Regions from separate parts of the Homo sapiens genome. Here region 2 is linked to region 1. Evidence: fine-mapped expression QTL. A gene starts in region 1. The other region holds a variant in brackets. All regions are shown on one strand. Distances are from middle to middle.

Region 1 (4,447 bases):
AGGAGAGGGGTGGGAGCCATGGAAGGAAGAGCCAAAGGATAGTTTCATACCACTCAGCACAGGGACTGTGAGGATCCTGGCTGATCTGAGGGAGGGAAAGTGTGGAAGAGGGGGACGGCAGTCACGGGGGCTGGGGGGACTTCAGGCTCTGTTGGGGAGGTTGCCCTGGGTGGGAATAATGGCCCAGGTACTCAGAAACCTTAGGTTCAGGAATGATTGGAGGAAACTGGGCCACTAGACGGTGTATCTACCCCAGACTGGCTGCCACTCAAGGTCTGGAGTGAATGGTATGGATGAAAGGGACCGCTCAGGAAGACAACCTCCCTGGAGGAGAGCAAGGTGGGAGCAATGCTTAACCCCAAGGGCTGTCTGGCTTTGATGACATTTGAGGCATCAGTGTGGGGAAAGTGCAGCCACTACATGAGAGGCTGACTTCGAAGCTGGCCAAAGGGGATACCCCTGGACCTGGGGCCTCCATTCTGCCTCAGGAGGATCTGGACAGACAGTGGGGGGTTAACACTCTGGCTTGCATCTGGCTGGGCAGGCTCTCCTCTGACTGCCTCTTCCTCCCACCCCTAGCCCTGGCTTCTGCCTGGGGAGCAGCCCTCAGAAGGAATCTCTGCTGCAGGCTCAGAGATGCTAGGACACCTCAGTCCAGCTGTCCAGCCTCCTCTGCCACCTATCCTATTCCATTTCATCTTCCCCCTCAACAAGGCCTCTGGAGAGACCTGGCAGAACCGGGCCCTTGGACTTCCCCTGTCTAAACACAGCCCCCTTGTCTTTCTCTTCTTTCCTCATGGTCTCCCCTTCAGCCCCGAAGCTTTGCTTTCTGCCTATGGCTAACCCTTCTCCCTTCCCCTCTCAACTCTATCTCCTCTCTCTCAGTGAGGCACTTTCTTTCTGTGGACCCACTCTTCCCTTTCTCTCTCACCTCACCTGCAGCCCGCTCTCCTCTACCCCCAAATAATTTTCTGCTCTTTTCCCCCCAGGTTTCCCCTCTCATTTTCTTCCAGGACTCCTCAGAAGCAAATCTATTATGAGCCCACTGACTGGTCATGAACAGTGCCACCCTCACTTTCTATGGCTGCATCTGCTACCGCCACAGTTGGGGCAGGGCGTCCCTTACGCAGTCAGGAGCAGACCCTGCCCCTGGACACAGCTCTGCAACACCAAACCCTCTTTCCATTTTCCTCAAGCACTGCAAACCACCATAAACCACCACAAAGCCCAGAATCTCCCCAACCGATGAAACCAGAATTTGCAAGAAAAAGAGATTCTGAGCTAGCCCCAAGCAGCCCCGGGGGTGGGGGGCTGTTTGCCGGCTGTTGCCGTCCCCCACCCCACCCCCCAAACAGCCACCCAAGTCCTCCGTAGCTCCTGCCTGTGGGCTGGAACAAGCAGTGGCTTGCCCCTCTCCGTCCCTCTGCCAGCAAGTCCCTGGCGTTCTATAAGCTGGTTGACCCCCTGAACTTTCCCTGCCCAGAAGCGCCCACTCCTCAGCAGGGCCTTGGAAGCACGTGTGTGGCCGATGAGGAAGGTGCCCACCGGGGAGGGCACACACTCAGCGCACAGCCACTCCGCCCGTGCCTTGGTGGTGGCGGGTAGGGAGAGAGGCAGGGCACCCTGGCTGAGCGGGGGCTCCTGCCTGCAGGTGGCTCAGTGTTCCCCTCCGTGCAATGGGGTGAGCAGCCCTCCGTTTCCCAGGGAAGCCTGGCAGTCCCGGTGCAGCTGCAGGGCCGCCACCGGCCTCCGCCCTGGCGCCAGGGCCCAGTCCGTGCGCAAAGGCGGTTCGTCCGCGGCGGGAACGCCGGGCCAGTGCAGCCGGCGCGCCCAGGCTGTCGGCTCCGAGGGGCCGCTCCCGGCCGCCTGGCCGCCGAGCCCCCGCCCCAGCCCGTCCCGGGCCCAGCGCCGCGGCCGTCGCTTACCGTGGGAGGGCAGCGCCCGGCGGCGCCCGGCGCGGTCATACGGGCAGCTGGGTCCCGGCCGGGCGCGTCGGCCGCCCTCGCTCGCTCGCTCGCTCGCTGGCTGCTGCGGAGTGGGCGCCCCGGCCGAGGGCCGCACCGCTGTCCTGGGATGCGGAGAGCGGCTCTGGCGCCGAGAGGACCCAGGCAAACTTTCACTTTCCCCGGGCCGAGCCTCACTGGCCAGCCCTCGGCACAGCCTTTTAAGAGAGGACTGGGGGGCATGTGGTTTATGGGAAATCACCCTGGCCAGGCGCCAGACACACACATACACACACACACACACACACTGACACAGACACACACACTCCAGAGGCCCACTCAGCCGCCTTCCCCCGCCTCCCCTCCCCCACCCGCCGGCCGGCCAGCCCCGCTCGCGCGTCTTCCTAGTCACCCTCTGTCTTCTGCGCTGCACTTCCAAGCCTTCAGCAAACGAGCGCGGGCTCCACCGCGTCCCCACCCTGCCTTCCCCGCGCCCTCTGCGGACCGACCCTTTCCTTCCGCGCTCTCCAGGCTGATTCAGTGCTAGCGCTCTATGATCGTCCCAAGGGACTTTCCCTCCAGGCCTGAAAATCCCCAAATCTTAGCAGAAAACGGACCGAGAGCAGGGACAAGCACTGGGAAGGGAGGGAAATCCTTTGAAGACGCCCCCACCCCATTCTCGGAGTGCCGAAAGGAGTCCAGTGTTACTTGCTCCCTCGTGGAGCCTGAGTCAGCAGGTTTGCCGGCAGCCCCCTTCTTCCTCTGCAGCCCCCAAGCAGCCCGGCCAGCTTCAAGTCCCATTCTGGGAGGGAGGCCAGCTACCTGGCCAGGAAGGGAGCAGCTGTGTCCTGTGACAGCAAGCTGGGGGGCTCTTCCCTGGGTGCCAGCAGACACTTCAAGGCACCTGACCCTTAGATGATGAAAATGCTGGCTGGTACCCATGCTCTCTCCTGGAGGCAAAATCCAACTCAGATTGGAAAGGTCCTGCACCTGGACCCTAGATTTCCCTGGATGTTTTTGGAAATTGCACTTACTGAGGTGATTAATCACGTTTTGTTTCTACATGAGAATGAGTCTAAGTGAGGACTAGTAGGATGAGCCTAAGCCTATTAATTATAATGCCAACTTCAGGAGATTTTTCTTTCTTCAATTCATTATGATTCAATTCCTCTGTGAGGTTGCCCGTTTCCACCCCCTGGGAAATAAAGGATATGTGGCCTGCTCTTGAAGAGGAGTCTCTTGTCAGTAGCGCTACATATCCTTCACTCCAATCCTAGGCAATAATTTTACACCCGAATGCCTTTGCTCAGACTGGTCCCTCTGCCTGGAATGCTCCTTTCTCCACATGGCTGAAGACAAACTCCTCATCATTTCAGGCTGAAATTGCATCTCATCCTCCACCAGCAAAGCCTTCTGTGACTCTCCTGGCAGAGCAAAGGGTCCTTTTCCTGTGTTCCCATTGGACTTGGCTCATTCCTCAATGCTGGCTCTGATAAGTCATTTGCCATCCATTCATTCTCCACAGTACTTTTCGAAGTGTTTAAGGTGGTACCGATGGTTACATTCTGTCCCCACCCTAGACCGAGACTTCTTCCAGGTGGCACCCATGCTCAGTCACCTCTGGATCAATGGTACCTAGCACATAATAGGTACCAAGTTAATGATGGCTGAGTTGAATGATGCCATTAGAGAATACTTTGTTCTTTTGACAAATATGTGCTACCAGATGCTAGGCACCGTGCTGGGCCCTGGGGATACAACAATGACATGGTCACTGTACAATAATGATTTCAGATAACATGTTGACACCACAGTTCTTAAGACTGATAAAAGGTTAGAGGAAGTAACCTGAGAAAGATAAACCAACAGACTTGTTGAGAAAGGGGTCCAGTTTTACTTGCTCCTTCCTTCACCAACCCAGCCCTGGCCCAGGTTCACTGAGGCTGGCATTTGGACTTTGCTCAGCTTCTGGAGGAACGTAATCATTCTCCACGTTGGTGCAAGGCCTGAGGTCCTCATTCCCCGCACTGGAGTTCTTTACATACCCTGGTTTGAACCTGACTCCACTACTTACAAGTGATTTGACCTTGGTAGCTCTGCCAAGTCATTTGCTGTGTGACATTGGACAAACTTCTCTCAGTTCCCATGTCTATAAAATAGAGATGTTAATTTCTCTCTCTGACCAAGGTGTTATGAGTATTGAATGAGATAAGGCCTGTGAAGTATTTAGCACAGGGCCTGAAGACAGTAAGTGCTATTGTTATTATTATCTGTTCACTCACATGGGTTCTAAAGCAATGACACCACAATGGTGCAGTGGACTTGGGAGTCCCAAGGCCAGATTTTAGTCCCAGCTCTGCCATTCATTTGCTGTGTAACTTTGCTGTGTAACCCCTTAGCCTTTTGGGCCTCTCTTTCCTCATTTGTACAGTGGCAATTTTAAGACTTTCCCCAAAGGAGTGGTCATGAGGTCAAATGGGCTGACATATGGGAGTCCCTAGGGC
Region 2 (4,000 bases), 57 kb after region 1:
TCAAGGGAATCATTGGAAGGCCCACTGCCCCAAGGAATGAAGGTCGTTTGAATCAGAAGCCACTAACCTGATGATCCAGCAGCAGGACTGAGGGTGCCCGGGGCAAGTGCCTGCCCATACCATCACCCTCACAGAGCTCCAGGTATGCTTGACCATTGAGGGCCAGGAGGTTAACTGTCTCCTGGACACTGGCATGGCCTTCTCAATCTTACTTTCCTGTCCTATACAACTGTCCTCCAGATCTGTCACTAGCCAAGGGGTCCTAGGACAGCCAGTCACTAGATACTTCTCCCAGCCACTAAGGTGTGACTGGGGAACTTTACTCTTTTCACATGCTTTTCTAATTATGCCTGAAAGCACCACTCTCTTGTTACGGAGAGACATTCTAGCAAAAGCAGGGGCCATTGTACACCTGAACATAGGAGAAGGAACACCCGTTTGTTGTCCCCTGCTTGAGGAAGGAATTAATCCTGAAGTCTGGACAACAGAAGGACAATATGGATGAGTAAAGAATGCCTGTCCTGTTCAAGTTAAACTAAAGGATTCCACCTCCTTTCCCTACCAAAGGCAGTACCCTCTTAGACCCGAGGCCCAACAAGGACTCCAAAAGATTGTTAAGGACCTAAAAGCCCAAGGCCTACTAAAACCGTGCAACAGCCCCTGCAATACTCCAATTTTAGGAGTACAGAAACCCAACAGACAGTGGAGTTTAGTGCAAGATCTCAGGATTATCAGTGAGGCCGTTGTCTCTCTATACCCACTGTACCTAACCCTTATACTCTGCTTTCCCAAATACCAGAGGAAGCAGAGTGGTTTACAGTCTTGGACCTTAAGGATGCCTTTTTCTGCATCCCTGTACATCCTGACTCTCAATTCTTGTTTGCTTTTGAAGATCCTTCGAACCCAACATCTCAACTCACCTGGACTGTTTTACCCCAAGGGTTCAAGGATAGCCCCCATCTATTTGGCCAGGCATTAGCCCAAGACTTGAGCCAGTTTTCATACCTGAACACTCTCATCTTTTGGTACATGGATGATTTACTTTTAGCCACCCGTTCAGAAACCTTGTGCCATCAAGCCACCCAAGCACTCTTAAATTTCCTTGCCACCTGTGGCTACAAGGCTTCCAAACAAAAGGCTCAGCTCTGCTCACAGCAGAAATACTTAGGGCTAAAATTATCCAAAGGCACCAGGGCCCTCAGTGAGGAATGTATCCAGCCTATACTGGCTTATCCTCATCCCAAAACCCTAAAGCAACTAAGAGGGTTCCTTGGCATAACAGCCTTTTGCTGAATATGGATTCCCAGGTACGGCGAAATAGCCAGGCCATTATATGCACTCATTAAGGAAACTCAGAAAGCCAATATCCATTTAGTAAGATGTACACCTGAAGCAGAAGCAGCTTTCCAGGCCCTAAAGAAGGCCCTAACCCAAGCCCCAGTGTTAAGCTTGCCAACAGGGCAAGACTTTTCTTTATATGTCACAGAAAAAAACAGGAATAGCTCTAGGAGTCTTTACACAGGTCCAAGGGAACAGCTTGCAACCTGTGGCATACCTGAGTAAGGAAATTGATTTAGTGGCAAAGGGTTGGCCTCATTGTTTACAGGTAGTGGCAGCAGTAGCAGTCTTAGTATCTGAAGCAGGTAAAATAATACAGGGAAGAGATATGACTGTGTGGACATCTAATGATGTAAACAGCATACTCACTGCTAAAGAAGACTTGTGGCTGTCAGACAACTGTTTGCTTAAATATCAGGCTGTATTACTTGAAGGGCCAGTGCTGAGAACTTCTCTC[T/C]TGTGCAACTCTTAACCCAGCCACACTTCTTCCAGACAATGAAGAAAAGATAGAACATAACTGTCAACAGGTGATTGCTCAAACATACGCCACTCAAGGGGACCTTCTAGAGGTTCCCTTGACTGATCCCGACCTCAACTTGTATACTGATGGAAATTCCTTTGTAGAAAAAGGACTTTGAAAAGTGGGGTATGCAGTGGTCAGTGATAATGGAATACTTGAAAGTAATCCCCTCACTCCAGGAACTAGCGCTCGGCTGGCAGAACTAATAGCCCTCACTGGGGCACCAGAATTAGAAGGAAAAAGGGGAAATATGTATACAGACTCTAATATGCTTACCTACTCCTCCATGCCCACACAGCAATATGGAGAGAAAGGGAATTCCTAACTTCTGAGGGAACACCTATCAAACATCAGGAAGCCATTAGGAGATTATTATTCACTGTACAGAAACCTAAAGATGTGGCAGTCTTACACTGCCGGGGTCATCAGAAAGGAAAGTAAAGGGAAATGGAAGAGAACCACCAAGCGGATATTGAAGCCCATCAACAGCCACAAGGCAGGACCCTCCATTAGAAATGCTTATAGAAGGACCCTAGTATGGGGTAATCCCCTCTGGGAAACTAAGCTCCAGTACTCAGCAGGAGAAATAGAATGGGGAACCTCACAAGGACATAGTTTCCTCCCCTCAGGATGGCTAGCCACCGAAGAAGGAATAACACTTTTGCCGGCAGCGAACCAATGGAAATTGCTTAAAACCCTTCACCAGACCTTTCACTTAGGCATTGATAGCACCCACCAGATGGCCAAATTATTATTTACTGGACCAGGCCTTTTCAAAACTATCAAGCAGATAGTCAGGGCCTGTGAAGTGTGCCAAAGAAATAACCCCCTGCACTGCCGGCCATACATTTCAATCCCTGTATCTTTAACCTCCCTGTTAAGTTTGTTTCTTCCAGAATCGAAGCTGTAAAACTACAAATCATTCTTCAAATGGAACCCCAGATGCAGTCCATGACTAAGATCTACTGCGGACCCCTGGACCGGCTTGCTAGCCCATGCTCCAATGTTGATGACATTGAAGGCCCCCCTCCTGAGGAAATCTCAACTGCACGATCCCTACTATGCCCCAATTCAGCAGGAAGCAGAGCAGTCGTCGGCCAACCTCCCCAACAGCACTGGGGTTTTCCTGTTGAGAGGGGGGACTGAGAGACAGGACTAGCTGGATTTCCTAGGCCGACTAAGAATCCCTAAGCCTAGCTGGGAGGGTGCCGCATCCACCTTTAAACACGGGGCCTGCAACTTAGCTCACACCCAACCAATCAGGTAGCAAAGAGCGCTCACTAAAATGCTAATTAGGCAAAACAGGAGGTAAAGAAATAGCCAATCATCTATCACCTGAGAGACAATGATTGGGATATAAACCCAGGCATTTGAGCCAGCAATGGCAACCCCCTTTGGGTCCCCTTCCATTGTGTGGGAGCTCTGTTTTCACTCTATTACATCTTGCAACTGAACATTCTTCTGGTCCGTGTTTGTAACAGCTTGAGCTGAGCTTTCTCTCACTGTCCACCACTGCTGTTTGTCGCCATTGCAGACCCGCCACTGACTTCCGCCCCTCTGGATCCGGCAGGGTGTTGGCTGCACTCCTGATCCAGTGACTCACCCATTGCTGCTCCTGATCGGGCTAAAGGCTTGCCATTGTTCCTGCATGGCTGAGTGCCTGGGTTCTTCCTAATCTAGCTGAACACTAGTCGCTGGGTTCTATGGTTCTCTTTTGTGACCCACAGCTTCTAATAAAGCTATAACACTCTCTGCATGGCCCAAGATTCCATTCCTTGGAATCCATGAGGCCAAGAACCCCAGGTTAGAGAACAAGAGGCTGGCTGCCATCTTGGAAGCGGCCTGCCACCATCTTGGGAGCTCTAAGAACAAGGACCCCCAGGTAACATCAGCTCATCAAAGTCATTCTCCATCCAGCTTTGTTCCATTGCTGGCAAGGAGCTGCAATCCTTTGGAGAAGAAGAGGCACTCTGGTGTTTAGAATTTTCAGCTTCTCTGCTCTGGTTTCTCCCCATCTTTGTGGTTTTATCTACCTTTTTTCTTTGATGCTGGTGACCCACAGATGGGGTTTTGGTGTGGATGTCCTTTTTGATGATGTTGATGCTATTCCTTTCTTCCTTTCTATTTGTTAGTTTTCCTTCT

Evidence for each region.
Region 2: its variant is fine-mapped to the expression of CSF1 in whole blood (TOPMed, PIP above 0.99).

The regions. Positions count from the first base shown.
Region 1 is chr1:109,908,541-109,912,987 of GRCh38, reverse strand. It overlaps CSF1 (colony stimulating factor 1), which reads right to left and starts at 2,139. Exons shown (of 9, transcript NM_000757.6): 1 at 1,926-2,139. The coding sequence starts at 1,964. RefSeq lists enhancers at 753-852, 929-1,429, 1,430-1,930 and silencers at 1,716-1,825, 1,876-2,045.
Region 2 is chr1:109,851,979-109,855,978 of GRCh38, reverse strand. All of the region lies in intron 4 of LINC01768 (long intergenic non-protein coding RNA 1768), which reads right to left. Among named protein-coding and RNA genes, the nearest start is that of LINC01768, 26 kb to the right of the region's middle. The variant T/C (reference allele first, on the strand shown) is at 1,796.